Linked DNA regions of Homo sapiens. The protein of the gene in region 1 purifies or fractionates together with the protein of each later gene. This does not show direct contact. Each region holds a gene or a part of one and is shown in the gene's direction. Other genes may lie near its edges. The genes, in order: SCAI, REV3L, BSN, ADNP2, DOT1L and ZNF280D.

Region 1 (4,744 bases):
TGCACACAGGAAAAAGACGAGGAAGAAATGTTACAACTATCTAAGTTTTATCTCCAAATAACCAAATTATAGGGGATTTTTATTTTATTTTTTACAACATTCTAAAGTTTCCAAAATTTCTGACCTGGCACAGTGGCTCACACCTGGAATCTCAGCACTTTGGGAAGCCCAGGTGGTTAGATCACTTGAGGTCAGGAGTTCAAGACCAGCCTGGCCAACATGACGAAGCCCCATCTCTACTACAGAATGCAAAAATTAGCCAGCCATGGTGGCATGCTCCTGTAATCCCAGCTACTCAGGAGGCTGAGGCAAGAGAATCACTTGAACCTGGGAGGCGGAGGTTGGAGTGAGCCAAGATCACACCACTGTACTCCAGCCTGGGTGACAGAGCGAGACTCTGTCTCAAAAATTAATAATAATAATAAAGTTTCCAAAATGTATATGTCCTACTTTCCAATCAAGCAAAAAGGGGCGAGGAGTTGGTGTTTTTTGTGTTTTGTTTTTTTTTGAGACAGAGTCTTGCTTTGTCACTCAGGTGGGAGTGCAGTGTCATGATTTTGGCTCACTGCAACCTCCATCTCCCAGGTTCAAGCGATTCTCCTGCCTCTCAGCCTCCCAAGTAGCTGGGATTACAGGCACATACCACCACACCCGGCTAATTTTTGTATATTTAGTAGAGATGGCATCATCATGTTGGCCAGGCTGGTCTTGAACTCCTGACCTCAAGTGATCCTCCTGCCTCAGCCTCCCAAAGTGTTGGGATTACAGGTGTGAGCCACCGCACTTGGCCAGGAGTTGTTTTTGGGTAAATTTGTCAAAAGTGAATTTCAAATGTTTTTTCATGACAGAGTAGCACCATGATGATGAGATTTAATGTACTAGAAATGAAATTTACTGGAAATTACACCAGTGAATACATTTTTCTAGATGTGTTTTTTATACAAGTTTAATTTTGGATCCTATCCTAGCATCTATCAATCACTTTTGTTATTGTTAAATTTTTCTGGTATTTCTCCATTTTTGGCTTTTATGACCATTATTTTGCAAATGTCTACAACGTTTTTGAAATTATAGTATGAATATACTAAATGGAAATATTTTGAAACATTTATGGTTTGTATAGTTATACTATCTTAAGGCTCGGTATTTTTCTCACTTTTTTTTAATTCAAAGAAAATTTTTCTAATCAGAAAAATATAAATTAAAACCAAATGAGATATCACCGAACTAGATGACTAAAAACAAAAGAGACCAAGAAACTGATAATAGCATATCCTGGCAACTAGTACAAGAACTGAATATTTCATACTATGTAGAAATAGAAATTGATAGATTTACTTTAGAAAAGTGTCAGGCATTATCTAGTACAGCTCCATATGTGCACACTCTATGACCAAGCATTTCCAGTATTTTCTTATTGATCTGTAAGAGTTCTGAATATATTCTACATGAAAGTCCTTTGTCAGATTTATGTGTTGAACTATCTTCTCCTACTCTTGTCTTGCCTTTTACTCTCTTCTGATATCTTCTGTCTCTTTTTCTCCTTTTCTTTAAACATCTGTTAAAATATTTATTAGTATCTACGCTATGCCAGACGCCCCTGTTCCAGATACTGAGATTCCAGTGAACAGAAGTCCTTAATTTTAATGTAGTCTAATTTATAATTTTTTTCCTTTCTGGTATTAGCTTTTTTGTGTCCTATTTTGAGAAATCATTGCTTACCTTACCTTTCATATTTAGATCTATGATATCTTTGGGATTTATTTTAGTGTGAAGTATGGGTCAGATTTTCTTTCTGGATTTCCAGTAGACCTAGCACCATTTACTAAAAAGACCATCTTTTCCCTGCCACACTGCAGTGTCACTTTTATCATAAATCTGATGTTCAAATATATTTGAGTCTCATTCTGTTCCTTTGGTCTGTTTGTCTATTATGCTGATACTTCTGACTTCATTATTATGGCATTTTAATAGGCCTCGATATATTGTAGTAAATGAAATACTGATTTTTTCTAATTTTTTCTCTTACATTGATTCTGATTCTTATTTCCTTCTTCCTATTTTGAATTTAATTTGCTTAGATAACTGACATTTATTTATTTATTTATTTATTTATTTATTTATTTATTGAGACAGAGTCTTGCTCTGTCTCCTAGGCTGGAGTGCAGTGGTGCAATCTCAGCTCACTGCAACTTCTGCCTCCCAGGTTCAAGCGATTCTCCTGCCTCAGCCTTCCTAGTAGATGGGACTACAGGTGTGTGCCACCACGCCCGGTTAATTTTTTGTATTTTTTTTTTGTATTTATTATTTTATTTTATTTTATTTTATTTTATTTTATTATACTTTAAGTTTTAGGGTACATGTGCACAATGTTCAGGTTAGTTACATATGTATACATGTGCCATGCTGGTGTGCTGCACCCATTAACTCGTCTTTTAGCATTCGGTATATCTCCTAAAGCTATCCCTCCCCCCTCCCCCCGCCCCACAACAGTCCCCAAAGTGTGATGTTCCCCTTCCTGTGTCCATGTGTTCTCATTGTTCAGTTCCCACCTATGAGTGAGAAGATGCGGTGTTTGGTTTTTTGTTCTTGCGATAGTTTACTGAGAATGATGATTTCCAATTTCATCCATGTCCCTACAAAGGACATGAACTCATCCTTTTTTATGGCCGCATAGTATTCCATGGTGTATATGTGCCACATTTTCTTAATCCAGTCTATCATTGTTGGATATTTGGGTTGATTCCAAGTCTTTGCTATTGTGAATAGTGCTGCAGTAGACATACGTGTGCATGTGTCTTTATAGCAGCATGATTTATAGTCCATTGGGTATATACCCAGTAATGGGATGGCTGGGTCAAATGGTATTTCTAGTTCTAGATCCCTGAGGAATCGCCACACTGACTTCCACAATGGTTGAACTAGTTTACAGTCCCACCAATAGTGTAAAAGTGTTCCTATTTCTCCACATCCTCTCCAGCACCTGTTTCCTGACTTTTTAATGATTGCCATTCTAACTGGTGTGAGATGGTATCTCATTGTGGTTTTGATTTGCATTTCTCTGATGGCTAGTGATGGTGAGCATTTTTTCATGTGTTTTTTGGCTGCATAAATGTCTTCTTTTGAGAAGTGTCTGTTCATGTCCTTCACCCGCTTTTTGATGGGGTTGTTTGTTTTTTTCTTGTAAATTTGTTTGAGTTCATTGTAGATTCTGGATATTAGCCCTTTGTCAGATGAGTAGGTTGCGAACATTTTCTCCCATCTTGTAGGTTGCCTGTTCATTCTGATGGTAGTTTCTTTTGCTGTGCAGAAGCTCTTTAGTTTAATTAGATCCCATTTGTCAATTTTGTCTTTTGTTCCCATTGCTTTTGGTGTTTTAGACATGAAGTCCTTGCCCATGCCTACGTACTGAATGGTAATGCCTAGGTTTTCTTCTAGGGTTTTTATGGTTTTAGATCTAACATTTAAGTCTTTAATCCATCTTGAATTAATTTTTGTATAAGGTGTAAGGAAGGGATCCAGTTTCAGCTTTCTACATATGGCTAGCCAGTTTTCCCAGCACCATTTATTAAATAGGGAATCCTTTCCCCATTGCTTGTTTGTCTCAGGTTTGTCAAAGATCAGATAGTTGTAGATACGTGGCGTTATTTCTGAGGGCTCTGTTCTGTTCCATTGATCTATGTCTCTGTTTTGGTACCAGTACCATGCTGTTTTGGTTACTGTAGCCTTGTAGTATAGTTTGAAGTCAGGTAGCGTGATGCCTCCAGCTTTGTTGTTTTGGCTTAGGATTGACTTGGCGATGCGGGCTCTTTTTTGGTTCCATATGAACTTTAAAATAGTTTTTTCCAATTCTGTGAAGAAAGTCATTGGTAGCTTGATGGGGATGGCATTGAATCTATAAATTACCTTGGGCAGTATGGCCATTTTCATGTTATTGATTCTTCCTACCCATGAGCATGGAATGTTCTTTCATTTGTTTGTATCCTCTTTTATTTCATTGAGCAGTGGTTTGTAGTTCTCCTTGAAGAGGTCCTTCACATCCCTTGTAAGTTGGATTCTTAGGTATTTTATTCTCTTTGAAGCAATTGTGAATGGGAGTTCACTCATGATTTGGCTCTCTGTTTCTCTGTTATTGGTGTATAAGAATGCTTGTGATTTTTGTACATTGATTTTTGTATCCTGAGACTTTTCTGAAGTTGCTTATCAGCTTAAGGAGATTTTGGGCTGAGACAATGGGGTTTTCTAGATATACAATCATGTCGTCTGCAAACAGGGACAATTTGACTTCCTCTTTTCCTAATTGAATACCCTTTATTTCCTTCTCCTGCATAATTGCCCTGGCCAGAACTTCCAACACTGTGTTGAATAGGAGTGGTGAGAGAGGGCATCCCTGTCTTGTGCCCGTTTTCAAAGGGAATGCTTCCAGTTTTTGCCCATTCAGTATGATATTGGCTGTGGGTTTGTCATAGATAGCTCTTATTATTTTGAGATACGTCCCATCAATACCTAATTTATTGAGAGTTTTTAGCATGAAGCGTTGTTGAATTTTGTCAAAGGCCTTTTCTGCATCTATTGAGATAATCATGTGGTTTTTGTCTTTGGTTCTATTTATATGCTGGATTACATTTATTGATTTGCATATATTGAACCAGCCTTGCATCCCAGGGATGAAGCCCACTTGATCATGGTGGATAAGCTTTTTGATGTGCTGCTGGATTCGGTTTGCCAGTATTTTATTGAGGAT
Region 2 (4,744 bases), on another chromosome or scaffold:
GTATTATATTGTTATTGTTATTATAGTTTATGCAGTTATTAGCAAATGGACTTTGGTTTCCATTCTCCTTTCTTTTAAGAATTTTTTCAGGTGGCTGGGTATGGTGGTGTGCACCTGTAATCCCAGCACTTTGGGAGGCCGAGGTGGGAGGATCGCTTGAGCCCAGGAGTTTGCGACCAGCCCAGGCAAAATAGTGAGACTCTCTCTCTACAAAAAATTAGGCCGGGCACAGTGGCTCACGCCTGTAATCCCAGCACTTTGGGAGGCCGAGGGGGGCAGATCACCTGAGGTCAGGAGTTCAAGACCAGCCTGGCCAACATGGTGAAACCCTGTCTCTACTAAAAATACAAAAATTAGCTGGACATGGTGGCAGGTGCCTGTAATCCCAGCTGCCTAGGAGGCTGAGACAGGAGAATCACTTGAACCCAGGAGGTGGAGGTTGTAGTGAGCTGAGATCACGCCACTGCACTTTGTTGCCTGGGCAATAAAGAGTGAAACTCCATCTCAGAAAAAAAAAAAAAAAAAGATAGCTGGGCATGGTGGCATGCACCTGTGGTCCCAGCTACTCAGGAGGCTAAGGAAGGAGAATCACTTGAGCCCAGGATGTCAAGGCTGCAGTGAGCTGTGTTCACGCCGCTGCATTCCAGCTTGGGCAATAGAATGAGACTTTATCTCAAAAAAAAAATCTCTTCAGGGAATTGATAGACAAACATGTGAGCGCACGCACACACACAGCAAATAGCAAAATAGAAATCAGAGTACTGGTTTATTTATCAGTAGTTAAGTAGTTATGGTGTATACCACTTTCATCACCAAGTTAGGACATAACTGATGAAAGCTAAATTGGGTAATGTGGCTTAATCCAGAAAGTTTAAATGATGGCTCTTGTTCCTGCCCTTGTGTCCATGATCTCATATACTTAACCAGTTGCAGAGCAGGCAGTTCATTTCAGCCATCCATTCAGAAGCAGAAGAGGATGGCTGGAACTGCTAAGGCAGGCCCTGCCTTAGTCTAAATCTTGGAAAGAGATAGGAAAAGCAGCAGAGGACACACTGCATGTATGCACTGACCTGTGGCAGTACCATGTTCCTGACTCCAGTGGGAAAAAAAAAAAAGAAAGATACAATATGAATATTACACATTTGTTCAAAGCCATAGAAAGTACCACACCAAGAACAAACCCAAATGTAATCTGTGGACTTTGGACAATTATGATGTGTCAACATAGGTTCATCGATTGTAACACATGTACCACTCTGGTAGGGGATGGTGATAATGAGGGAGGCCATGTATGTGTGGGGGCACAAGGGATATATGGGAAACTTCTGTACCTTCCTTTCAATTTTGCTGTCAACCTAAAGCTGTTAAAATATCTTTTTAAAAAAGTTTAAATTAAAAAAACACGACAGTGAATGCCAGGCTTTTACCCAGCAGATTCACAATAATTCCTATAGGAATCCATTTAAGAAAGGGTTGAGAATGTGAAATGATGGATATGTTAATTTGTTTCACTGTAAGAACCATTTTACTATATACTAATATCATATTTTATACCTTAAATATACACAATAAAATTTATTTTTTTAATAAAGGGGTGAGAAAAGGTTATCAGAAATGCAGAATAAAAGTTCTCTCCTGTAATGACTTGAAGTGAAAGGTAGAAATGTCCACCTCCCAGCCCCTTTTCAACACACAGTTTTGTTTAGTACCCACATGGAACTCTTTATTTCACTGCTGGAGCATATGAAATCTGTTCTTTAGACGTTAGTTTCCATCATTTTGGGGACTTTGGTGTTATTAGTAGTGATTATGGTATATTTACTTTTAGTTACCAAACTTTATGTGCTAGTCATTACCTTTGTGTTGTTGTTATTGTCCAACTTTGACACTTGTCCTGCAGCTAAAATAAAAAATAATCATTTTTGAAAAATATTTTTGAAATATGAAACTGTAGGCCGGGCACGGTGGCTCACGCCTGTAATCCCAGCACTTTGGGAGGCCAAGGTGGGCAGATCACAAGGTCAGGAGATCGAGACCATCCTGGCCAACATGGTGAAACCCCATCTCTACTAAAAATACAAAAATTAGCTGGGCATGGTGGCATGAGTCTGTAATCCTACTCGGGAGGCTGAGGCAGGAGAATCACTTGAACCAGGGAGTCAGAGGTTGCAGTGAGCTGAGATCGCACCACTGCACTCCAGCCTGGTGACACAGCAAGACTGTCTCAAAAAAAAAAAATGAAACTGTATATTCAATATAGAAAATTTAGGAAGTATGAAAGAAGAAAAAATAAAAATTACATCATTTTTCCATGTAGTAACAGCCACCATAATATTTTGATGTGTATTCTGTTTTCTTTTTTAAAAAGTATAGTTTTTAGTTTGTTTTGTTTTGTGAAGTGTGATCTTACTATAGTCACAGTATTATATCCAAATTTTTCACTTAACATTATATTGTAAACATTTTCCAAATGAGTTTCTTGAATATTTTAATCGCTGCATATGTTGCATCATGTATATATTATTGGACAGAAAGGTTGTTTGCAATTTTGCCACTATAGATATTATGTATATTATTATGTATGTTAAGAAGATATTAGCATTTTCTTCTTAAAGCATTTCTTGTATTTTGGAGTTTTTCCTTATAGCCCTAGAAGTAGGATTACTGAAAAATTTAAGGCTCTTGATACATATTAGGAGATTTTTTTTCCCAGTGGGTTATAGCAATTACCATGCTGCTGACAATATGTAAGAAAACTGAATTCACCACACCTCACCATTTTTTTTTTTTTTTTTTTTTTTTGAGACAGAGTCTGGCTCTGTCACCCAGGTTGGAGTGCAGTGGCGTGATTTCGGCTCACTGCAAGGTCCGCCTCCCTGGTTCACGCCATTCTCCTGCCTCAGCCTCCCGACACCTCACCATTTTTTATTCTTGACCTCATTATGACTTCTCTATCCTTAGTATTAGAGTTGGGTATGGTCACTTGGTATGTGTATTCATTTCCTTCAACAGCATTAATTCTGTTTCTGTTTTTTCACATTGCCAAGAGTGGATGCAGGGACAGTGCTGGATGCTGGTTATGGAGTTAACTAGTAGGGGCTTAAGTCTTTTCATATAAAGGAGACAGAGTAGCCCTAATGCTCTTCTTTCAGCTTCAAATCTGAAAACATGATCCAGTTAGTGGATTTTACATAGAGAGTGATGGGGACATTTGGGGAATCATGCCCTAAGAGAAGTGATTGAAAAAACTATGAATTAACTTTATATCCATAATAAAGTTAACATGAAGAAGTAGAATTATTTTATGTTGCTGTAGTAAGCAGAAATAGTATCAAGGGATTGGAGAAAGACAGAGGTTTCACTTAATATTTATAACTATTGGAAATGAAACCAGACTGTTTTCATTAGTGATTTCCCACATATTCATGCATTGGTAACATTTAAGCCATGCATCCTGTGGGCTCTGCCAGCTCCTAAGTTATGTCAGTGTTAATCCCTGCCATGGAATGGGAAGAAAGAATTAGAGTAATTTACCTCAGTTGGTATTTTTTTTAATGTTTAAGGGAATTTGAGAGTACGAAGATTCATTTGAATTGACTGGCTTTGTTAAACTACAGATACTGGAGAATATAGGAAGAAGCTATGAATAATATCCAGGGACATAGTATTTGAATGATAAATTCATTGTTTTTATTCATATGTGGTAATAATGGAAAATTTATTTTAAGATTAGGAGAGGAAAGGAATCTGAAAAGTTTGTGTCATCTCCTTGAAGGACAGAAGGCTTCATGGGGCATTAAAATAAAACAAAAAATACCTTCTCTCCCTAAGATTAATGGTACCTTCCAAAGGAAATTAAGTAGTAGTCATATACCTGTGAGGAAAAGCATATTGAGACTAAAGATAGAATGTACCTGCACAATATAGAGGGGGCAGGGAAGATAGACATGGACATTTTTGAGACTCCAAAAGGGACTTTATCTAGGATATGGAGTTAAATATTTTGGTAATTGCTCTTTGAAACAAAACAGTTGTTCTAAAATATGTTATTATAGGGAGATTGGTGGACGGCTCCTCATGGTAGAAACTCGACTTGCAAATGATCTGGCTGAGTTTGAGGGAGACTTTTCCTTGGAAGGACTTCGTCTTTGGAAAACAGCATTCTCAGCAATGACTCAGAATCCAAGGCCAGGGTCACCCCTTCGCAGTGGCCAAGGAGTTGTCAATAAAGGGTCAAGTAATAGCCCTAAGATGGTTGAAGATAAAAAAATTGTGATTATGCCTTGCAAATGTGCCCCAAGTCGACAACTGGTTCAAGTGTGGCTTCAAGCCAAAGAAGAATACGAACGTTCCAAGAAACTGCCTAAAACCAAGCCAACTGGAGTTGTAAAATCTGCTGAGAACTTTAGCTCTTCAGTTAACCCAGATGACAAACCTGTAGTGCCTCCAAAAATGGATGTAAGTCCATGTATACTCCCCACTACAGCACATACCAAGGAGGATGTTGATAATTCTCAGATTGCTTTACAAGCACCAACCACGGGATGTAGTCAAACTGCAAGTGAAAGTCAGATGCTGCCACCAGTTGCCTCTGCAAGTGATCCCGAAAAAGATGAAGATGATGATGATAACTATTACATTAGTTATAGCTCCCCTGATTCTCCAGTAATTCCCCCTTGGCAACAACCAATATCCCCAGATTCCAAAGCATTAAATGGAGATGATAGACCCTCATCACCAGTAG
Region 3 (4,744 bases), on another chromosome or scaffold:
CATTCAGGAAAGAGCATTAGCACAAAGACATATTTGCTTTCAGTAAGATTTTGAATTTCGGGGCAGTCAGAAACCTCATAGAGGTGGGTAGAAGGCCAGGTAAAAGGGAGATGATTCTGGGGGAGTTAAATGCTATTGCCATATTACCTTGTCATCCCAGGCTGAATTAGTCTTTTCATCCTCATACTGAGCTGAGTTGGACTCTGTGAGGGGGTGGCTCCAGCATTTGCTGCTGAAGAGCCTGACTTGAATCCCATGAGTAGCAGTGCTGCCACACCCATAGTGGTGCCTCTTAGCCCGTCGGGATGATGTGGAGCTTTGGGCATTGGAGAGTCCCTCAAGGAAGGGCTCTCTGCTTCTGGTGTCAGGGTGGCCATGTACAATTATATAATCTGTGCCTTTTCCAAGGAGTGCTGGTTTGGGAGAAAGCTGAACTCTAACCCAGGCTCCACTCTCCAAGCTGTGTGCCCTGGTGTAGGCTGCATCCTCTTAGATGAAGGGGCATCATTCACTCGTTAATTCATTTACTTATTTATGGAGATATGCCTAATGTACAGTGGAACACACATATTGATGGGATTTTATTTATACATACACTCGTGACACACTACCAGATCAAGACAGAACTTTATCAGTACCCCAGAAAGTACTTTTTAAAATAATTACACGAAGGAGCCATGTAGACCAGTGGCAGCCTGTCTAGTTTACACCAGCTCTGTGGACTTGCACCTGTCAGTTTTTTTTTTTTTTTTTTTTGAGTTGGAGTCTCGCTCTGTCGCCCAGGCTGGAGTGCAGTGGCACGATCTCCGCTCACTGCAAGCTCCACCTTCTGGGTTCACGCCATTCTCCTGCCTCAGCCTCCCGAGTAGCTGGGACTGCAGGCGCCCACCACCGCACCCAGCTAATTTTTTGTACTTTTAGTAGAGATGGGATTTCACCGTGGTCTCGATCTCCTAACCTTGTGATCTACCTGCCTCGGCCTCCCAAAGTGCTGGGATTACAGGCGGGAGCCACTGCACCCGGCCCAACTTGCACATGTTTTGATGTTTGCAAATTGATATCTAGTCGATCAGCTAAGGTGTATTTGTCAGCTGTCAAGAGCAAGCACAGTTATTGGCTTTGTGGATGGTATGGAAAGGATATATAGTGCTTCCCTGTCCTTCAGCACCTCACAGACTGGTTGGTCAGATAGCTCTTGAAGAGCCAAATCATGGAAGAACCCTAAGAGAGACACTGTGGGCAGCTCAGTATCTGAGAAATGTCAAATAAGCAGTGCTTACAGGGTTGTTAATTGGGAAGAGTGGAGAGGCACAGCTAAGCTTTAGGAGAGGTAGAGATGTAAGGCTGGAAAAATGACTGGGTTAAGAGAGGTAGAGATAGAGATAAATGGCATAAAGAATGTGGTCTACACAGGCAGGGACAGTGAGCAGAGAATGAGGCTGAGTGCAGGGTGGTGGGGGAAAGCCAGGGCAAAGCCAACAGAGGCCCTTCTCCATCATTGCCCATCAGAATGCGTAATCAATGCCAAAGTCGCCTCTCTTCACTCCTGGCCCATATGTTATTGAGACAGACACCCTAAGCCAAAGGCAGCTAGGCACAGAGAACCTGGTTGTTTACTGGAAGGTGGGCAAGGCTGCTCTGAGAACCATACCCCGAATTCCTTTTTCAAAATGGATTTGTCAGGCATAGTATCTCTGGTCTGGGATTAGTCAGACTTGTTACATTATATCAGCCAACTCAGCCTCTAGAAAAATCTGGCACTAACTTGTAAAGATAAAATGAAAGGACATAATTGCCAGGTCTGGAAATAATGCTCCTTTGTCACTTAGAGATCTTCTTTGTCCCCAGTGGCTGGATCTCACAGAGGGTATGTCATGGAGTGTGAATTAAAGTGACCTTACATCTGAATGGTGACGATGTCAAAATTTTACCCAGAGGGCAACCATTTTTGCATTTCTCCAGGGAAAGCAGGCTACTTTTGATAATACAGTTGCTCACAGCATCATTAAGACTAATAAGGTGCTGTTGATTTAAAAAATGTAAAAATGTAATGGAGACATTAGGAGGAGAAATACTGTCTTTTGTTTGTTTGTTTTTTGTTTTTTGAGACAGAGTCTTGCTCTGTCGCCCAGGCTGGAGTGCAGTGGCGCGATCTCGGGTCACTGCAACCTCTGCCTCCCGGGTTCAAGCGATTCTCCTGCCTCAGCCTCCTGAGTAGCTGGTATTACAGGCACCCACCACCAGACCCAGCTAATTTTTGTATTTTTAGTAGAGACGGGGTTTCACCATGTTGGCCAGGCTGGTCTCAAACTCCTGAGCTCAGGTGATCTGCCCGCCTCAGCCTCCCAAAGTGCTGGGATTACAGGCATGAGCCACTGTGCCTGGCCGAGAAATGCTATCTTAAACATTTTTTTTTTACTATGGAAAATTTCAAACATACATGAAAGTAGAGGAAATGGTCTAATGAACTTTTGTGTTCCCATTGCTTAGCCACTGCCATCATCAACTTATGGCCAATTGAGTTTAATTTATCTCTCTCACATCCTACCCCCTAGAGAAGCAAATTCCAGACATCCCAAAATTTCATCATCAGTATTTCAGTTTGTATTTCCAAGAAATAAGGGCTTTGCATGAACATAACCACAGCACCACAGCCACATCTAAATAAGATAATGATCTCTTCTTAAACTCAGCAAATATTCAGTCAGGATTCTACTTTTCTGATTGTCTTATGAATTTACTTTTATTATTGGTTTGAATTGTGATCTAAACAGGGTCTACACATTGAATTTGTCTGATGCATCTGTCTAGTTTCTTTATGTATTTTCTCTCCTTTTTGCTCCTTGCAGTTTATTATTAGAGAACTATGACATTTGTCCTGTGGTTTCTCATATTCAGGATTATGCTGATTGCATCCCTGTGGTGTCATTTAAGATGTTCCTCTGTCCCATGTTTTTCTTGTAAACTGAGAATTCTGTCTAGAAGCTAATCAGATTCAAATTTTATTCTTTTGGTCAAGAAATTCTAGCTTTTTAAAAAAGAGTTTATTGAAGGCTTCAGACATGGAGAGGCTGAGAGTTCACTGAAAGCAGAACCAGGGTTTGGGCTAATTGGGAGCCAAAGAACAATGCAGTGGACCACTTTTCTGTTCCTTTTCTAAAGATCTCCTTCCTCTGAGTCAGTTTGGTTCTGAGTTTAAGAAGTCAAAGCTTTCAGAGGAAAGTTGTTTTTTTTTTCCCCCAGAAAAGTCATGCCTTTCACCCCAGTGTGGGGGAGCCCTCCCTGCATATGTGAGTAGGAAGCCTCCTACTCACATTTGGGGGCTTAATAAATCTTTCCCCTTATCACAGGTCCTGCATTTCTGAATTGGGCCCTTTCCTCTTGTTAGTTGTGGGGGTGTGGAAGGCCAGACCTACTATGTGTGGGCTATGTGAGGGGAACCTGTTGCTGGAGCCTGTGGGCCATGTGCAGTAAGTTGGGGCTAACTGTGAAGGTAGGTTGGCAACACTGTAATAGCAGTTATGACTACCATTACTGAATGACTGCCTCATCACAGACATTCTGCTAGGTGTTTTATTTCTTATTCCACCTGCTTGGCCATTCAGCTTCTGCAGGCCCTGCCTGTCCTGACTTTACTTACTGCCTGGGGACTGACTTTTTAAATGGTAAAATGGTGGCTAAGCCCTGCATGCCTACAGCAAGGGCTGACTGTCACTTTAGGACATGAGGCCCTCTGGGTAAGCTGGGACTTGGTGAACAATCTAGCTGTGGGGGACTCCTGCTCAGTCCTTTCATTTGGTGCCAGGAGCATGTCATGCTGGTATTGATCCTGCATTTGTAGCACTTGCCCGAGCTCCTTTTCTGGAGGGACCTCTGCCATCTCCTCTCACTAGCACAGTGGTTGAAGCTGTGGAGTGAATTGGGACACTGGCCTGTGGGCTCCTGCCTGTGGTAGGGGTGATAGAATTTTGGTGTCTCACTCTCTGTGGTTCCTTCTGTACAGATCGGGCTTCTAGTGGGGGTCTGTTGCCCCCTAGCATTCTCTTGGCCCATTTGTCTTATATTTTAGGTTCTGGTCAGCTCTGCTGTGGAATGGGATACTCCCTGACACATCTGTGTTGTGCCTTGGGCTCCCAGGCTGGCCACAGGGCTGCTGTGATCTCTCCTTCCTATTATTCGTCTTTACGGGCACATAGGGTTCTAAAGAGAGCTTTGCTCTAGCAGAGACCTGGGGCCCCTACTTCTTTCTAACAAGAGGGTCACATGGAGGCACATGGGAAGCCTCCAGGGAGCTCTAGATCACCCCAGGATCAGATCAAATCTTGAATGGCCTGGAGAGGCCTGGTTGCCCCTAAAGTGGGTGAGGCTGCTGTCAGGGCCAACGGTGAAGAAGAGATTTTCCCTGAGGGGAAATAGAAGGGATGGCTTTTGGATCTTGGTCCCAAACACTGAGGAGATCCAAGAGCCTCAGCAGCAAGGATCACCCCACCCAGTCCTATCTGGGACTAACCCCTGTATCCAGAGGAGCCCGAGCTCTTCAATGCCACTGGCTTGTGTGGGGAGCCAAACCTCCCAAAGATGCTGGAAGAACCATTAAGGCATTTGGGTTCTTGGGAGAAAGGGTAGGTGAGGAAATTTCCTAATAGTTACACTGTTACATTTGTGTTTGCAGGCAGGTAACAAGGGTCACTCCCATTAAAAAAATTTTTTTAATTAATTATTTAAATTGACAAAAATTATGCAC
Region 4 (4,744 bases), on another chromosome or scaffold:
CCCATTTTCACTACTTAATTAACTCCTACTTTGGCCTAAGAACTGAGGAAATGGGTGAGCAACCGAAAACTAACGATACTGTTTCTATAGAGAAGATCCCACCACCTGACAAATATTACTGTAAAAAGTGCAACGCCAATGCCAGCAGCCAGGATGCGTTAATGTATCACATTTTGACATCAGACATACACAGAGATTTGGAGAATAAGCTTAGATCTGTGATTTCAGAACATATTAAGAGGACTGGACTCTTGAAGCAAACGCACATTGCTCCAAAACCAGCAGCACATTTGGCTGCACCAGCAAATGGCAGTGCTCCAAGCGCTCCAGCGCAGCCTCCTTGCTTCCATCTTGCTTTGCCACAGAACAGTCCAAGCCCAGCCGCAGGACAGCCAGTGACTGTGGCCCAGGGTGCCCCTGGAAGCCTCACTCATTCCCCCCCTGCTGCTGGCCAATCCCACATGACTCTGGTCTCCAGCCCTCTGCCTGTGGGCCAGAACAGCCTCACCCTGCAGCCCCCAGCACCTCAGCCCGTCTTTCTTTCTCACGGGGTTCCACTTCATCAGTCTGTGAATCCTCCTGTGTTGCCCTTGAGTCAGCCAGTCGGACCTGTCAATAAGTCTGTTGGAACTAGTGTCCTCCCCATAAATCAGACTGTTCGCCCTGGGGTTTTACCCCTCACCCAGCCTGTGGGACCCATAAACAGACCTGTTGGGCCTGGTGTTCTTCCTGTGAGCCCCTCTGTCACCCCTGGGGTCCTGCAGGCTGTCTCGCCAGGGGTGCTTTCTGTGAGTCGGGCGGTCCCGTCTGGAGTCCTTCCTGCAGGCCAGATGACTCCTGCAGGCCAGATGACTCCTGCAGGGGTTATCCCTGGGCAAACAGCAACTTCTGGGGTTCTTCCTACTGGCCAGATGGTCCAGTCAGGAGTTCTCCCTGTGGGCCAGACAGCTCCGTCACGGGTTCTTCCCCCAGGCCAGACAGCCCCATTGAGGGTTATCTCTGCAGGCCAGGTGGTCCCGTCTGGGCTTCTTTCTCCCAACCAGACAGTCTCCTCCTCAGCTGTTGTGCCTGTAAACCAGGGTGTGAATTCTGGTGTTCTGCAGCTTAGTCAGCCTGTTGTGTCGGGAGTTCTTCCTGTGGGCCAGCCAGTGAGGCCTGGGGTCTTGCAACTCAACCAGACTGTGGGCACCAACATTCTGCCTGTGAATCAGCCAGTGAGACCTGGTGCTTCGCAGAACACCACCTTCCTGACATCAGGCTCTATTCTCAGACAGCTCATCCCTACAGGGAAACAAGTGAATGGGATTCCAACCTACACGCTGGCCCCCGTGTCTGTCACTCTGCCGGTTCCCCCTGGAGGCCTTGCGACTGTCGCTCCGCCCCAGATGCCCATCCAGCTCCTGCCGTCAGGTGCAGCTGCACCAATGGCCGGTTCCATGCCCGGCATGCCCTCTCCTCCAGTGCTGGTGAATGCTGCTCAGAGCGTGTTTGTTCAGGCCTCCTCCTCTGCAGCAGACACAAACCAGGTGCTCAAACAGGCCAAGCAGTGGAAGACCTGCCCTGTCTGCAACGAGCTCTTTCCGTCCAACGTCTACCAGGTCCACATGGAGGTAGCGCATAAGCACAGCGAGTCCAAGTCTGGTGAGAAACTTGAGCCTGAAAAACTGGCAGCGTGTGCACCATTTCTAAAGTGGATGAGAGAGAAAACGGTGCGATGTCTGTCTTGTAAGTGCTTGGTCTCTGAGGAAGAGCTTATACACCACTTGCTGATGCATGGCTTGGGGTGCTTGTTCTGTCCATGCACCTTCCATGATATCAAAGGTCTTTCAGAGCACAGCAGGAATAGGCACCTGGGGAAGAAGAAGTTGCCTATGGATTATAGCAACAGAGGTTTTCAATTAGATGTCGATGCCAATGGCAACCTGCTCTTTCCCCACCTTGATTTCATCACCATATTGCCAAAGGAGAAGCTTGGGGAGCGGGAAGTCTACTTGGCAATCCTGGCTGGGATACACTCCAAGTCACTGGTGCCTGTGTATGTGAAGGTGAGGCCTCAGGCTGAGGGCACCCCCGGGAGCACCGGCAAGCGAGTGTCCACCTGCCCCTTTTGCTTTGGCCCCTTTGTGACAACTGAGGCCTATGAGCTGCATTTGAAGGAGAGGCACCACATCATGCCCACAGTCCACACGGTCCTGAAGTCTCCCGCCTTCAAGTGCATCCACTGCTGTGGGGTCTACACGGGAAATATGACCCTGGCTGCCATCGCCGTCCATTTGGTGCGCTGCAGAAGTGCTCCCAAGGACAGCAGCTCAGACCTGCAGGCCCAGCCGGGTTTTATTCACAACAGTGAACTGCTTTTAGTCAGTGGTGAAGTGATGCATGATTCCAGTTTTTCTGTTAAGAGAAAGCTGCCTGACGGCCACTTAGGGGCCGAAGACCAGCGGCATGGGGAGGAGCAGCCTCCCATCCTAAATGCCGATGCAGCCCCGGGTCCAGAAAAGGTGACGAGTGTTGTGCCTTTTAAAAGACAAAGGAATGAAAGCAGAACAGAGGGACCTATTGTCAAGGACGAGGCTCTTCAGATTTTAGCATTAGATCCTAAAAAATATGAAGGCCGTTCTTATGAAGAAAAGAAGCAATTTCTTAAAGATTATTTCCATAAGAAACCATATCCTAGTAAAAAGGAAATAGAACTGTTGTCCTCACTCTTTTGGGTGTGGAAAATTGATGTGGCTTCATTTTTTGGAAAAAGAAGGTATATTTGCATGAAAGCAATAAAAAATCACAAGCCTTCTGTACTTTTAGGCTTTGATATGTCTGAACTTAAAAATGTGAAACATAGATTGAACTTTGAATATGAACCATAAAACTTGCAAAAAAAAAAAAAAGTAACTCTAAAGTAGTAGGTAGATTTTTTTCAGTTGAAATTTCACAGTGTTGTCCTCACTGTGTTGGTGAATCAACCTCAGTGGTCACTGTGCTGCTCTGCAGAGTTACTTCAGGTGCTGGAGAGACCCCTGTTACCAGGAAGCCAGTAGTTATTTCACATCTATTGTTTCCTGCAGTTTGATTTGTAACAGAACAGTTGTTTTCAGGTTTTTTTCTCTGTCATGTAAATGAAATCTTTTGATATTTCATGCACGCCTTGTTTTCCCACTAGTGTCAGTATCGTATGATAAGAAACTGAAATCTATAAATAATTTGCTTTTTCATTAAGGACATTTCAGCCTTTTTCAGAATACTTGATTTAACTGCGAGTGGAAGCATCGATCTCCTTCAGCTTTCCCTGTAGCAGCAGATGGTACAGTGAGTGTTCAGAGACGTGGGTACAAACCCTGTGATGTATGTATAAGGCTCCCTGAGGATGCACTGCATTAACTTACGCTGACTTCTTTGTAAGATCTTTGCTTATAGATTATAATTTAGATCTGTATTTTTTTAGGTTTATCCTAATAGCTGTTTTTTTTTTTAACCATAACTCATAGAAAATCAAATGTTTTTATTTGTTAAAAGTAGACTGAATTTGACATCTGGTATGCTGGTATGTAGCTCATACATCAAGAGTTATTTTACAAATAAATTTATTCTGTAGATGCAGAAATATTTTTCAGTGTAGATTTTCCCTTTTGATATGCTAAGTCATTTCTCCGTTCAGAGGTAAAACAATAAATTTTTAGTGCCTTTAGAATAAACATTGAAAGAATACACCCCAAAACTCTTCTCCTAACTTAACTACTCATAAACTAGTGAAAGGGAAGGTCTATGATACTCAGGAATAAGATTATTGCCCCTGAGTGTGAAAACTAACTTAAATTTCAGCATAGGGTTTCAGGGGACATGGCGAAGTTTACAGACTGAGATCTCAGTCTCCATGGTTGGTACAGTAAGTCTTTGACCACATTTTCTGAAGGTCATGTTTAGTGGAGAAACGGGCTTTTCTCTAGCTGGTTTAGGCTGGAAGCTGTGTCCGGGTCGATGGGATGGCATATTGTTAAAGAATCTCCATTGTCGTCACTGTCCTGTGGATGTTAAACCTCGTTTTTTTCCCCACACGATATTAAAACTTAAAGCACCAGAACCAGTCATGGAGACCAGCCAGTTTAGATGGTAAGTCATATTTCTGGTGGTACACAGCAGAGGAACCCCTTCACTCTATCTTTAGGTAGAAATATTTGGAGGATGTGACAGCCTCTGAGAAACATAATGTTACTATGTGGATTTTAAAAAATATAATACTTGCATGTAATTGCTATAATGTTCATATTTGAGGCAGTTGTGAAACTGGTTTATGATTGTTGGTGTACTCTGTTGTAAATTCAAAGAGAGCTTGTTGAACATTTTTTTTTTTTACCTATTGTTTTCAGAGTGTCTATTTTGAATTAAAATTTGTTACACCGCTGCAAATAGAACTGTTTAATTCTTTTAAAAGTTAAAACATTATTGTGAATCATAGGGATAACCTCTATATGGGAATAGATACCACATTTATTTTCTAAAAAAACCTTACCTGTCATTTGTGTGAAAATAAGAACATAACCCAAAAGGTCTAATTACTGGGGTCACAAAATAGGTGTAACTACAGATTCCTGATGATTCTATACTGGTAGCCCCCAAAGTGCCAAAGAAGGTATGTAACTGGGGTGTCAGTGCTGTGAAGTTTCCTTCACTGTGGCTGTGTTCAGGGTGAGTGTGGAGGAGGTGCTGATGAGGAGGCAGCTGCCGTCTGGCGTGGTTGAATCCTCAC
Region 5 (4,744 bases), on another chromosome or scaffold:
TTCTCCTGCCTCAGCCTCCTGAGTAGCTGGGATTACTGGCATGAGCCACCACGTCCGGCTAATTTTGTATTTTTAGTAGATACCAGGTTTCTTCATGTTGGCTAGGCTGGTCTCGAACTCCTAACCTCAGGTGATCCGCCTGCCTTGGCTTCCCAAAGTGCCGGGATTACAGGGGTGAGCCACCGCACCTGGCCTCACATTTATTCGTATATCTTCCTCTTTCAGTTCACCTAGGGCGTAGTTCGCTGGTTGCAGGGTACAGTTCTATACGTTTTGACAAACTCATTGGGTGGTGCCCTGACCAGTGCTGCCGTCCAGGTGCAGAACCCCCAGCTTCCCTGCGGCGCCCCCATCCTCAGCTTGCCTGGGAGCTCCTGGCTGCTCCCCACCTGGCCTTACCTGTAGTTCTGCCATTCTCAGAAAGTTGGCTGAATGGAATCAACAGCATGTTGCCCTTTGGTCCTGGTGGCTTTCAGGCGGCCAAATCCGTGTTGCTGCAGGTTTCAAAAGTTACCCCATTTTTTTGCTGACTGTAAATCCATTGGACAGTTGGGCCACAGATTGTTGACGTGTTTGCCTGTGGGTCACAGGACTGTGGGCTGTTTCCAATTTTTGGTGATTAGAATAAACCCGCACTAAACACCACTGGCGGGATTTTTGGTGAAAGTCAGTGTTCGCGTGGCGAGGTTCTCAGGGGTGGACCGCACGGCCTGTGCTAAGCGTCTGTTTAACATCTGCATCCCAACAGTTGCCACTTGTCAGTGCTAAGAAACCCACTGGAACCCAGCGTCGGGGCCTGGGGTAGTGGTCTTGCCAGGGACCCTTTGCCTTTTCCTTGGTACTGAAGTGAACATTCACGTGAAGGCAGCCCTGGTGTCCCCGCCCGCATGCCTGCTGCCCTGCCTGGCCAGTGCTCCATTGTAAATAGTAAGGGCGAGAGCTGGCGGGAGCGGGCTTTCTAGTGGTGGGCGGGACTGTGCCGTGTCTTTCCCTCCCTGGCCAGGCCCTGGCTTGGCAGGGTGTGCTGGTCCTGGCGCCGTCTACGGCCTCTTCCTGCTCTGGTTGGCCCACTGCCGGGCCCAGCATCTTCATTCGCCCAAGTGCCAGAGGCAGCCTTCTGACAACCTCGCCGTGACATTTGTCATTTTCTGTGTTCCCGTTGAGGAATTTTGCTTTCTCACAAGAAGTGAGGGGTGGTTCTGATTTTCTTTTCTTTTCTTTTTTTTTTTTTTTTTTTGAGACAGAGTCTTGCTCTATCGCCCAGGCTGGAGTGCAGTGGCACAATCTCCACTCACTGCAAGCTCCGCCTCCCAGGTTTCAGTGATTCTCCTGCCTCAGCCTCCCCAGTAGCTGGGATTACAGACCTGTGCCACCATGCCTGGCTTATTTTGTATTTTTAGTAGAGACAGGGTTTCACCATATTGGCCAGGCTGGTCTCAAACTCCTGACCTCAGGTGATCCGTCCACCTCGGCCTCCCAGAGTGCTGGGATGACAGGCGTGAACCACCGTGCCCAGACGCAGCTGCAGCAGCACATTTATTCATGATTCATTCCAACAGCAGCTACTGAATACTCAGTGTTGTGGGGGCACAGAGGACAACAAGCCAATATTCTCCCCCCGCCACCGCCCCAGCATTCTTAGTCTCAAGAAACCTGTCAAATGAAGACAGGCCGGGCACAGGGGCTCATGCCTGTAGTCCCTGCACTTTGGGAAGCCCAGGCGGGAGGATTGCTTGAGCCCAGGAGTTTGAGACAAGCCAGGGCAACATAGGGAGACTCCATCTCTACCAAAAAATTTAAAACAGTGAAGTTAAGTAGATTATAAATAGAAGTTCAGCAGAGATACTGTGCTGAGTACAAGGTCAGCTGAGGTCCCCAGGGAGGGGCTGCCACTTCTGCCCTGGGGGACCTGTGGGTGGCTGCTTGGAGGAGGGGCCATCCGGAGGAGGAAGCAGAAATAGCCACAACTGTCCACGCTCGGAAATGAGCAGTTCGGAAGGGGTTTGCCCAATTGGCAAACGCAAGGGGGAGGAAGGGAGATTTTTATTCTTACATGACCTGGGAGTTCCTGGATAACCGCTTTTCTCAAGCCCCGCATGGCATTTCTTATTTTTTTGAGAGGGAATCTCGTACTGTTGCCTGGGCTGGAGTACAACGGTGTGATCTCGGTTCACTGCAACATCTGCCTCCTGGGTTCAAGTGATTCTCCTGTCTCAGCCTCCCCAGTAGGTGGGACTACAGGCACCCGCCACCACGCCCAGCTAATTTTTTGTATTTTTAGTAGCGACAGGTTTTCACTATGTTGGCCAGGCTGGTCTCGAACTCCTGACCTTGTCATCTACCTGCCTGGGCCTCCCAGAGTGCTAGGATTACAGGCATGAGCCACCGTGCCTGGCCCTGCGTGGTATTTCTAGGGCAGGATGGCCCTGCCCTTCTTCTAGTGGGAAGGGCACAAGTGGCATTATTGGTTGTTTGCTCGGAAAGAACCTTCAAAGGCCACAGAACGGGACCTTCCCCCTGGTGACTCACAGGCTGTGGGCGGGCAGGGGCGGCCTCCACTGGCCAAGGGTCCGGACTCTCTGACTCTCATTAATGAGTGAGTACATGTTCCGCCTGACAGCCTGGCCTGGAGCCCGGCTGTGGGCGGCGGTGAGTGGGCAGCCAGCAGTGAGTAGCAGCCGGGGCGGGGTGAGCTGTCCCCACCGTGACTCAGAAGGTATTTTCTGCTGCTGACCTCTGAGCTTGAGTGTCCTGAGTAATCCCAGCTCCCCCGGAGGCAGATTAACCTTTAGGCAGCTTTGTGTGAGTAAAGGAGTCGCTTTAAATAGGAAGGAATAATAGAAAAAACCCAAGTGTTCCGTTTTATAGCAAATGCACACTGCTTTGTTCCTGCTGGCCTGAAAGAGGTTGCAGGGGGTACTGGGGCGGGGAATTGTCCAGAAACTCTGCAGATGATACAGGGACACTCCAGCCTAGCCTCTGAGGAGAGTTTTTTTTGAGACGGACTCGCTCTGTCTCCCAGGCTGGAGTGCAGTGGCCCAATCTCGGCTCACTGCAGCCTCCGCCTCCTGGGTTCAAGTGATTCTCCTGCCTCAGCCTCCCGAGTAGCTGGGATTACAGGTGTGAGCCACCACGCCCAGCTCTTTTTTTCCTTTAAAAATCTGCTTGTTATCTGCTGCTCATCAGAGTGTATATTTGGGGTAATTCGAGCCTGTGCTCCCAGGTTGCAGTCCTCAAATGTGGCCCAAATAAATGCTCCACTTATATTAATTTTGCTCCAGTTCCTTTCCTTTAGCTCGACAGTGTGAATCTACAATTATCTTAAAATAAAAAGTTTAATTAAAAAAAACACACGGTTGCCCAGGCACGGTGGCTCATGCCTGTAATCCCGGCACTTTGGGAGGCCAAGGCGGGCAGATCACCTGCGGTCAGGAGTTCGAGACCAGCTTGGCCAACATGACGAAACCCCGTATTTACCAAAAATACAAAAATTAGCTGGGCGTGGTGGCGGTTGCCTATAATCCGGAGAATTGCTTGAACCCGAGAGGGGGAGGCTGCAGTGAGCTGAGATCATGCCATTACACTCCAGACTGGTCGACAGAGTGAGACTCTGTCTCAAACAAACAGACAAAATTAGATAAAGGAAAAAAGAATTTTTGTTCAAGTAATATTGGCCATTGATGGCTGCAAATCACTCTTGGTGTTACAGATTCCAGGAACAGGAAGATAGTGTCCGAGACCAGGATGCAGGAACAGATAGATGCCTTTCCACGCTTGCCCCTGGTGTGGTTGGGAGGCGTGACTGAAATCCTTGCTCTTGTCTCTCTGGACCTGATGCATTTTGCATGCCTCACTGGGCACGGACTGCTTGGAGCTGTTTTTATCTTCCAGCAGTGTGAGGTGTAGGAAGGACCCAACACGGTTCCTCCTGTGCTCTCCGCAGTCAACACAGAGGAGTTGCGGAACCAGATACGGGTACCCGGGGATTCATCAGTTCTGTGTTTCCTACTGGGCAGCCCCGATTCAACTCACTTCCAGCATGTCTACCTCGACACAGGCTCAGATCCCACGGGGTAAGGGCTCAGTCCCCAAGACTCCCCCACTTTCCATGCCAGTTAGAGGCCTCACGTTGTGACCTGTGCTTCTGAGTGACCGGTCGGCTGTAAATCCAGGTTCCCGTCACCCTTACCTCGGCTTGATTACATTGCCTCAGTGGCTCACAGAACTCCCGAGAAACACTTAGGTCCTTTGGTTAATGATAAAGGACGATCTGTGGGATGCCCATGAATACTGAGAAATGGATCCTCAGGGCAAGGCATGGGGGAAGGGCCCACTCCCTCCAGGAGTCTCCCGGAACGTGTGTCTCCCGGGACCTGTCCCCCTCCAGGAGTCTCCTGGAACCTGTCCCCCTCCAAGAGTCTCCCAGAACCTGTCCTTTAGAGTGTTGTTTCTCTCATTATTTTTGGGATAGGGTCTTGCTTTGTCACCCAGGCTGGAGTGCAGTGGCTCGATATCTGCTGACTGCATTCTCCGCCTCCCAGGCTGAAAGGATTCTCTTCCTTCAGCCTCCTGAGTAGCTGGGATTACAGGCATGAGCCACCACGCCTGGCTAAATTTTGTATTTTTTGGTGGGGCCTTGCTGTGTTGCCCCAGGCTAGTGGTAACTTTGATAAGCTTTGGGCCTCAGCCTCAGGCTGTGTGGTGGGGTCTAAGGTACAGCAGGGGCCCCAGAGGAGTCCTCCAG
Region 6 (5,194 bases), on another chromosome or scaffold:
CAACCACATCTGCTCCATTCATGGGAACACCTATTCTGTTTTACTGAATGAAGTGGTGCCTGAATCTAGAATTGCAATAAAGCCAACCGAGATCTTTAAATTTGTTGTAATTTCACCTGACACTGTAGCATGCTTTGCTAACCTTTAGGGACATTTGAAAAACGATGTCTTAAGAATGTTCCAAGATTTTGGAATTTTTAAACTTTCCATGTTTGCTGTTTTGACTATTTTCTGTCTTTTCCTGTAAGGTTTATTTTTCAGGGCCAGCAGAAAAGGGAAAGCTGGGTAGATGATCCCAGGCCCATGTGGGAGAAGGATAGGTCATGGTTACCTCCAAGTACACCAGATCTGTAGGAGTGATCCAGGTGGTCTTTGGGGAAGATTAATTTGGGGGCAGTAATCAATATGGAGACTACAGTAATGATAAACACTTGAGAAAAACTGGGGAAAGCCAGATGAGAGAGAAGAAACTGAATTCGAATAGGAAGATGAATTAGCAAGATTCAGTGATTGAACAGGGTGTCTGTTATGGATCCTAACAGGCAAGATTTCAAGTCTTGGTCACTCACAAGCTGCACCAGTAATGCCATTGCTCTTGAGAAGACAATCAGTTTAGGAAACTTTCCTTACAGATCAGAATACAACCTTTAGCAAGTATTTACGCAAGCAGTATCTTGGCAAGTGTTCTTCTTGTAAATTTCTTATACTTCTCGTTGTCAAACTTTAAAAAATGCTATTACAGGTTAATATGCAGATGGCAGAGTTAGGAATTAGAGTGTGCAAGTTAATCATTCTAATTGGGTCACTCTTGTCATAGCCAACTAAAAGAATGGAGAAGCCAGTGCTGGGGGAAGCCCTCAGGGCACATAACATTGCTCTAAGAATGGAATTCTCAGCAAGCCTGGCTGCTGAAACCGCCTGCTGTAACCTGAAACAGGTTTTATCTTCAGGTTTTAGCTTCTCAAAGAACCTGCTGCAGCTGTAGGGCAAGCTTTACCAAGCCCCTTCCCTCACCAGTCAGAACTAACCAGCTACCCAAAACTTTACTAAATGTCAACGAACTTTCTAGAAAAACAATAGATAACTTTTTTTAAAAAATAAAACCCCCTAACTCCTCTTTGTTCTTCTGACATACTGAAGACCACCCTGTATGTGTAAATAACCTGAACTTGCAATTCCTGTGTCCCAAATAAAACGCTAAATGTACAGATTCGTCTCTTCGTATTTGACCTCGACAGGGAACGCAAGCAAAACCACACATTTAAAACAGACTTGGTAAAATCAGCTCGTTATTTAAAGAAACGGACGATTCCTTTTTCTCTCCTGGTTTAGTCTTCGACCCACAGGCCCCTTGCTTCTTTCGAACGGCGGCTGTATCCCATGACCTTTTCACTTTCCAAGCCAACGGACTGGGGGTCGTTACACACGCGGAGGGCCCGGAACGCACGGCTCCTCGCCTGCAAATTCCGAGCAGTCCGGATTTTGGGGCTGCCTCCCGGCCACACCAGCCAGCAGCTCGCACCCACATGGAGGCAGGGCCCTGGCCCTCGCCCCGGACCGGCGCGTGGCGGGGCGCGTGGGTCTTCGAGGGCCCGCGACGCGGCGCACATGCCGGTGCCCGCCTCCCGCGTCGGCGAGAAGACAGGGAGCTCGGACACGGGGAGGCTGACCCGGAGCCTACCCATGAGGCAGCGCGCCGGCTGCACGAGAGCCCCCCCCTTTCCACGGCTCGGCTGCCAGCTCCGCAATGGGAGCCGCCGCCGTCGCCGCAGTGTAGTTTTTCGTGCTCCTCCTTTTCCTCCTCCTCTTTCTCCTCCTCCTCAGGGCTCCAGTCAGGCCGATCCGCTCCGCTCACGGTAAGCGCCCCCCCGCCCCCGCCCGCCCTGCGCTGCAGCAGGCAGAGGCCCTCCCGCGCGGCCTGCGCCGCCTCACTCCGGGGGCGCTGGACTGGGGGTCTTGAGGCCGGCGCGGGTCGTCGGGAGCGCCCAGAGCGCGGGGGAGGAGACCGGCTGCGCGGCGGCGGCCGGACCGCCATCTTGCGTCGGCCCAGGCGGGGGAGGAGGTATCCCGGCGCGACGCGGCAGCCGCCTCGGCTGCTGCAGGCCTGGGCCGCGCAGGCCTTCGCCTTCTGCTCCTCCGCCACCTCCTCTCCCAGGCGTGTGCGCCTGTTTGTCCCCAGCCTGGTTTTGGCTTTTCTCTCTGGAGGCAACTCCCTTTGGTACATTTTGTGCCGATGTTTGGCCAAGACCCATGGTCCTCACACCACAGCCCACCCCCGTGTCTCTTCAGTCGTAGGAAAGGAGACCAAAGGGGATTCGGGATTTGCAGGCACAGGGCCCCTCATTTTGCCCAGATGACCGGTCGTTCCACGTTTGCACCCTCATTTTTGTCAAAGAGACCTCCCCTCCTCTGCCATAGAATTCCCGTTATTGTCTACAGAAGAAGGGCCCTGAGGAGAAACGTGGAGTTGGAGACAAAATTTTCTGAGCTTTGCAAGGTTCACTTACTGAGACGGAAAGAATGATCTCACTCTGAGGTTTTAGCCTGCTCCAGCGATGGAAGGAATTCCTCCCAACTTATCGCAAGTTTTAACGCTTTTAAGGAGAAATCTGCTGGAGAGGAAAAACGTCAAGGTGAACCCGCTTCTGCAAGCACGGGAGACCTTTGGCCAAAGGCCTTTGTTTGCGAAGATTTGTTAAAAAAAAAAAAATCTGTCATCTTAAATATTTGGCTTTATTTTCAGGTTTGGACAGAATTTGTCTTTTTTAGTGCCATGAAACATAAAATGGAACGCTAGAAGGACAGTTTTAAAGCACAAAAGCTGCCTCTTAGCATCTGTAAGGTGTCCTGCTTTGGGGGACTGCTGTGCCAACTCCAGCTGTCTCCACGCAGAAACTTAACCAGGGAAGGCACTGGTTTGCTTATACCATTGTTAGGGCTGTGTGCCTCTGATGTTTTAACATCACTACAAATACTGTTGTAATTGTGTCTTGCTTTTGTGCCTTTCATTGATAACCCCTGATTTGTATCTCTTAGCCCCTTTTGAAGTGGTCTGGGTTGCTGGAATCATTTTGCAGGCGAGGAAACAGAGCCTCAGGGAGAGGACTTTAATGAGGTCACTGACTAGGAAGAGCCAAGGCCAATTATATTAATAGAACCTTAGGTCTTCTGACTCCTTCTCCGGTGCTCAACTCTAGTATATACCATTTTTGTGGGAATGAGGTAGATGAGAATAGGCAAGGAGGCTCACTTAAAGATTTTAAGAAACATTACTCAGTTGCCCTTTCGTTGATATTTTTATACTTTACTTTTGAAATGCGGTTGTTATGTTGCCCAGGCTGGTCTCAGACTCCTGGGCTCAAGCTGACCTCTCACCTCAGCCTCCGTAGCTGGGATTACAGGTGTGCACCATCTAGCCTGGCTTTTATATTTTTATTCTCGAGTTAATTTCTTAACTTTGCAACTTGCTATTTTTTTCGAAAATATTGGAAAGTTAAATAGCCCATTTGAACACTTAGTTTTAACGCTACCTTTTTGCCATATTTGCATTTTTCCACTTATCTCACATTCTGTTTTCTGAACGTTTCAAAGTGCATTACGGATATGACAGTTCAGCCCTAAATGCTGTATGTGTGTCAGTATGTATTTTGTAAGAGATCAAGGCCATTTTTCTGTGTAACAATACCGCAATCACACTTAAGAAAGTGAAGAATATTCCTTAAAATCTAACGTGGTGTAGTATATATTCACATTTCCCCCCATTTCTTCAAAATTCCTTTTCAGTCTTTTTTTTTTTTTTTTTTTTTTGAGATAGGTACTTGCTCTGTGTCCCAGGATGGAGCGCTGTGGAGCAGTCTTGGCTCGCTGCATCCTTGACCTCCTTCCTGGGCTCAAGCCATCCTCCCACCTCGGCCTCCTGAGTAGCTGGGAACCCAGGAGCACGCCACCACACTCAGCTAATTTTTGTATTTTTTGTAGAGATGGGGTTTTGCCGTGTTACCTAGGCTGGTGTCAAACTCCTGGGTTCAAGTGATCCACCTGCCTCGGCCTCCCAAAGTGCTGGGATTACAGATGTGAGCCACAGCACTGGGCGAAATTGACCTTTTGAAGAGACCTGGTCTGTAGTCTTTCAGAATAACCCATATTCCATGTTTTAGTGATAGTTCCTCCTGATAGTGTTTAAATTTGTTCCCCCTATCCTCTCTGTTTTCTCTAAACTTGGATTTGGGTCTAAAGGCTTGAATATATTTAGGTTTAATATTTTTTTGACAGGAATACTTCATAAGCCATGCAGTATGCTTCATTGCATACAACATCCAAAGGCACATAAAGTAGGCTTGTCTTATTAATAATCCTAAATTTGATCTCTTAGATAAGGTGGTGACAAGCTATCTTTCCATTGTAAGCATTTCCTTCTGCAATTAGCAAGTCATTTGTGGTGTGATATTTTGGCATTAGTAGTTGGTAGGAATTTACCTGCAGTAATCTGATAAACACAGTTGGGAGCAGTCGTTTAGGTATGGCTTTGGAAGTTAGGAAGAAGAAGAAGTGGAGACAATTCTGGAGGAAATACTAACCCATCTACTTTAGGGAACTTGGAATGCTTCTATGTGTTGGCATCAGAGCCTAGGGAGACTAGGAGAGAGGAGGCAGAAAGTAGATGTCAGAAAGCTTTGCCTTCTTTGAAAGTTTGCTTAGGACCATTTTAGCCATAGTAAGCTATGGTAAATAGAAAAGTTCTGAAGTAGTTTGATGTTGGAGGATTGCAAGTGCTTCAACTGGAACATCTGTCCAGTTAGGCTACTAATCCAGTCCTTTTTCATTCCAGTGTTCTATTAATCAGCATTGGCTCACTGAAATAGCAGTTTTCACAAATGAAAAGTCAACTGTAGTTTTAGGTGACAGGAAATTGGATATTTCTATTGACAACATACTTTGTTATTCCAAAAGCAAGTTTTGGAAGATGAGGAATACTTACGACATATTCACTAATTAAATATATAAATCCTGAATAGTTTTTTTCTTGCTTTAGAAAGGAATTAAAAACTTTGAATTTTCAGATTGCTTTAAATAGTGATTTAAATAATGACTTGATTTAATCAGTGCCTTATATCAAAAATTGTATGTTTAGAATTTTGATTTATTTCTCCAGAGCAATTTTAAGGATTCTCTTAACCCTCAGTATACGAGGAAA

Evidence for each region.
Region 2: the proteins of SCAI (region 1) and REV3L purify together in Homo sapiens (affinity purification with mass spectrometry, with the first as the bait; one study listed by BioGRID). This does not show direct contact.
Region 3: the proteins of SCAI (region 1) and BSN purify together in Homo sapiens (affinity purification with mass spectrometry, with the first as the bait; one study listed by BioGRID). This does not show direct contact.
Region 4: the proteins of SCAI (region 1) and ADNP2 purify together in Homo sapiens (affinity purification with mass spectrometry, with the first as the bait; one large-scale study listed by BioGRID). This does not show direct contact.
Region 5: the proteins of SCAI (region 1) and DOT1L purify together in Homo sapiens (affinity purification with mass spectrometry, with the first as the bait; one study listed by BioGRID). This does not show direct contact.
Region 6: the proteins of SCAI (region 1) and ZNF280D purify together in Homo sapiens (affinity purification with mass spectrometry, with the first as the bait; one large-scale study listed by BioGRID). This does not show direct contact.

The regions. Positions count from the first base shown.
Region 1 is NC_000009.12:125,013,773-125,018,516, reverse strand, and holds part of SCAI (protein SCAI), read left to right. Parts: intron 1-4,744. UniProt on the Homo sapiens protein: Tumor suppressor which functions to suppress MRTFA-induced SRF transcriptional activity. May function in the RHOA-DIAPH1 signal transduction pathway and regulate cell migration through transcriptional regulation of ITGB1.
Region 2 is NC_000006.12:111,367,340-111,372,083, reverse strand, and holds part of REV3L (DNA polymerase zeta catalytic subunit), read left to right. Parts: intron 1-4,055; coding exon 4,056-4,744. UniProt on the Homo sapiens protein: Catalytic subunit of the DNA polymerase zeta complex, an error-prone polymerase specialized in translesion DNA synthesis (TLS). Lacks an intrinsic 3'-5' exonuclease activity and thus has no proofreading function.
Region 3 is NC_000003.12:49,556,840-49,561,583, forward strand, and holds part of BSN (protein bassoon), read left to right. Parts: intron 1-4,744. UniProt on the Homo sapiens protein: Scaffold protein of the presynaptic cytomatrix at the active zone (CAZ) which is the place in the synapse where neurotransmitter is released.
Region 4 is NC_000018.10:80,135,943-80,140,686, forward strand, and holds the end of ADNP2 (activity-dependent neuroprotector homeobox protein 2), read left to right. Parts: coding exon 1-2,867; 3' UTR 2,868-4,404; downstream 4,405-4,744. UniProt on the Homo sapiens protein: May be involved in transcriptional regulation. May play a role in neuronal function; perhaps involved in protection of brain tissues from oxidative stress. May be involved in erythroid differentiation.
Region 5 is NC_000019.10:2,166,517-2,171,260, forward strand, and holds part of DOT1L (histone-lysine N-methyltransferase, H3 lysine-79 specific), read left to right. Parts: intron 1-4,744. UniProt on the Homo sapiens protein: Histone methyltransferase. Methylates 'Lys-79' of histone H3. Nucleosomes are preferred as substrate compared to free histones. Binds to DNA.
Region 6 is NC_000015.10:56,730,120-56,735,313, reverse strand, and holds the start of ZNF280D (zinc finger protein 280D), read left to right. Parts: upstream 1-1,804; 5' UTR 1,805-1,856; intron 1,857-5,194. UniProt on the Homo sapiens protein: May function as a transcription factor.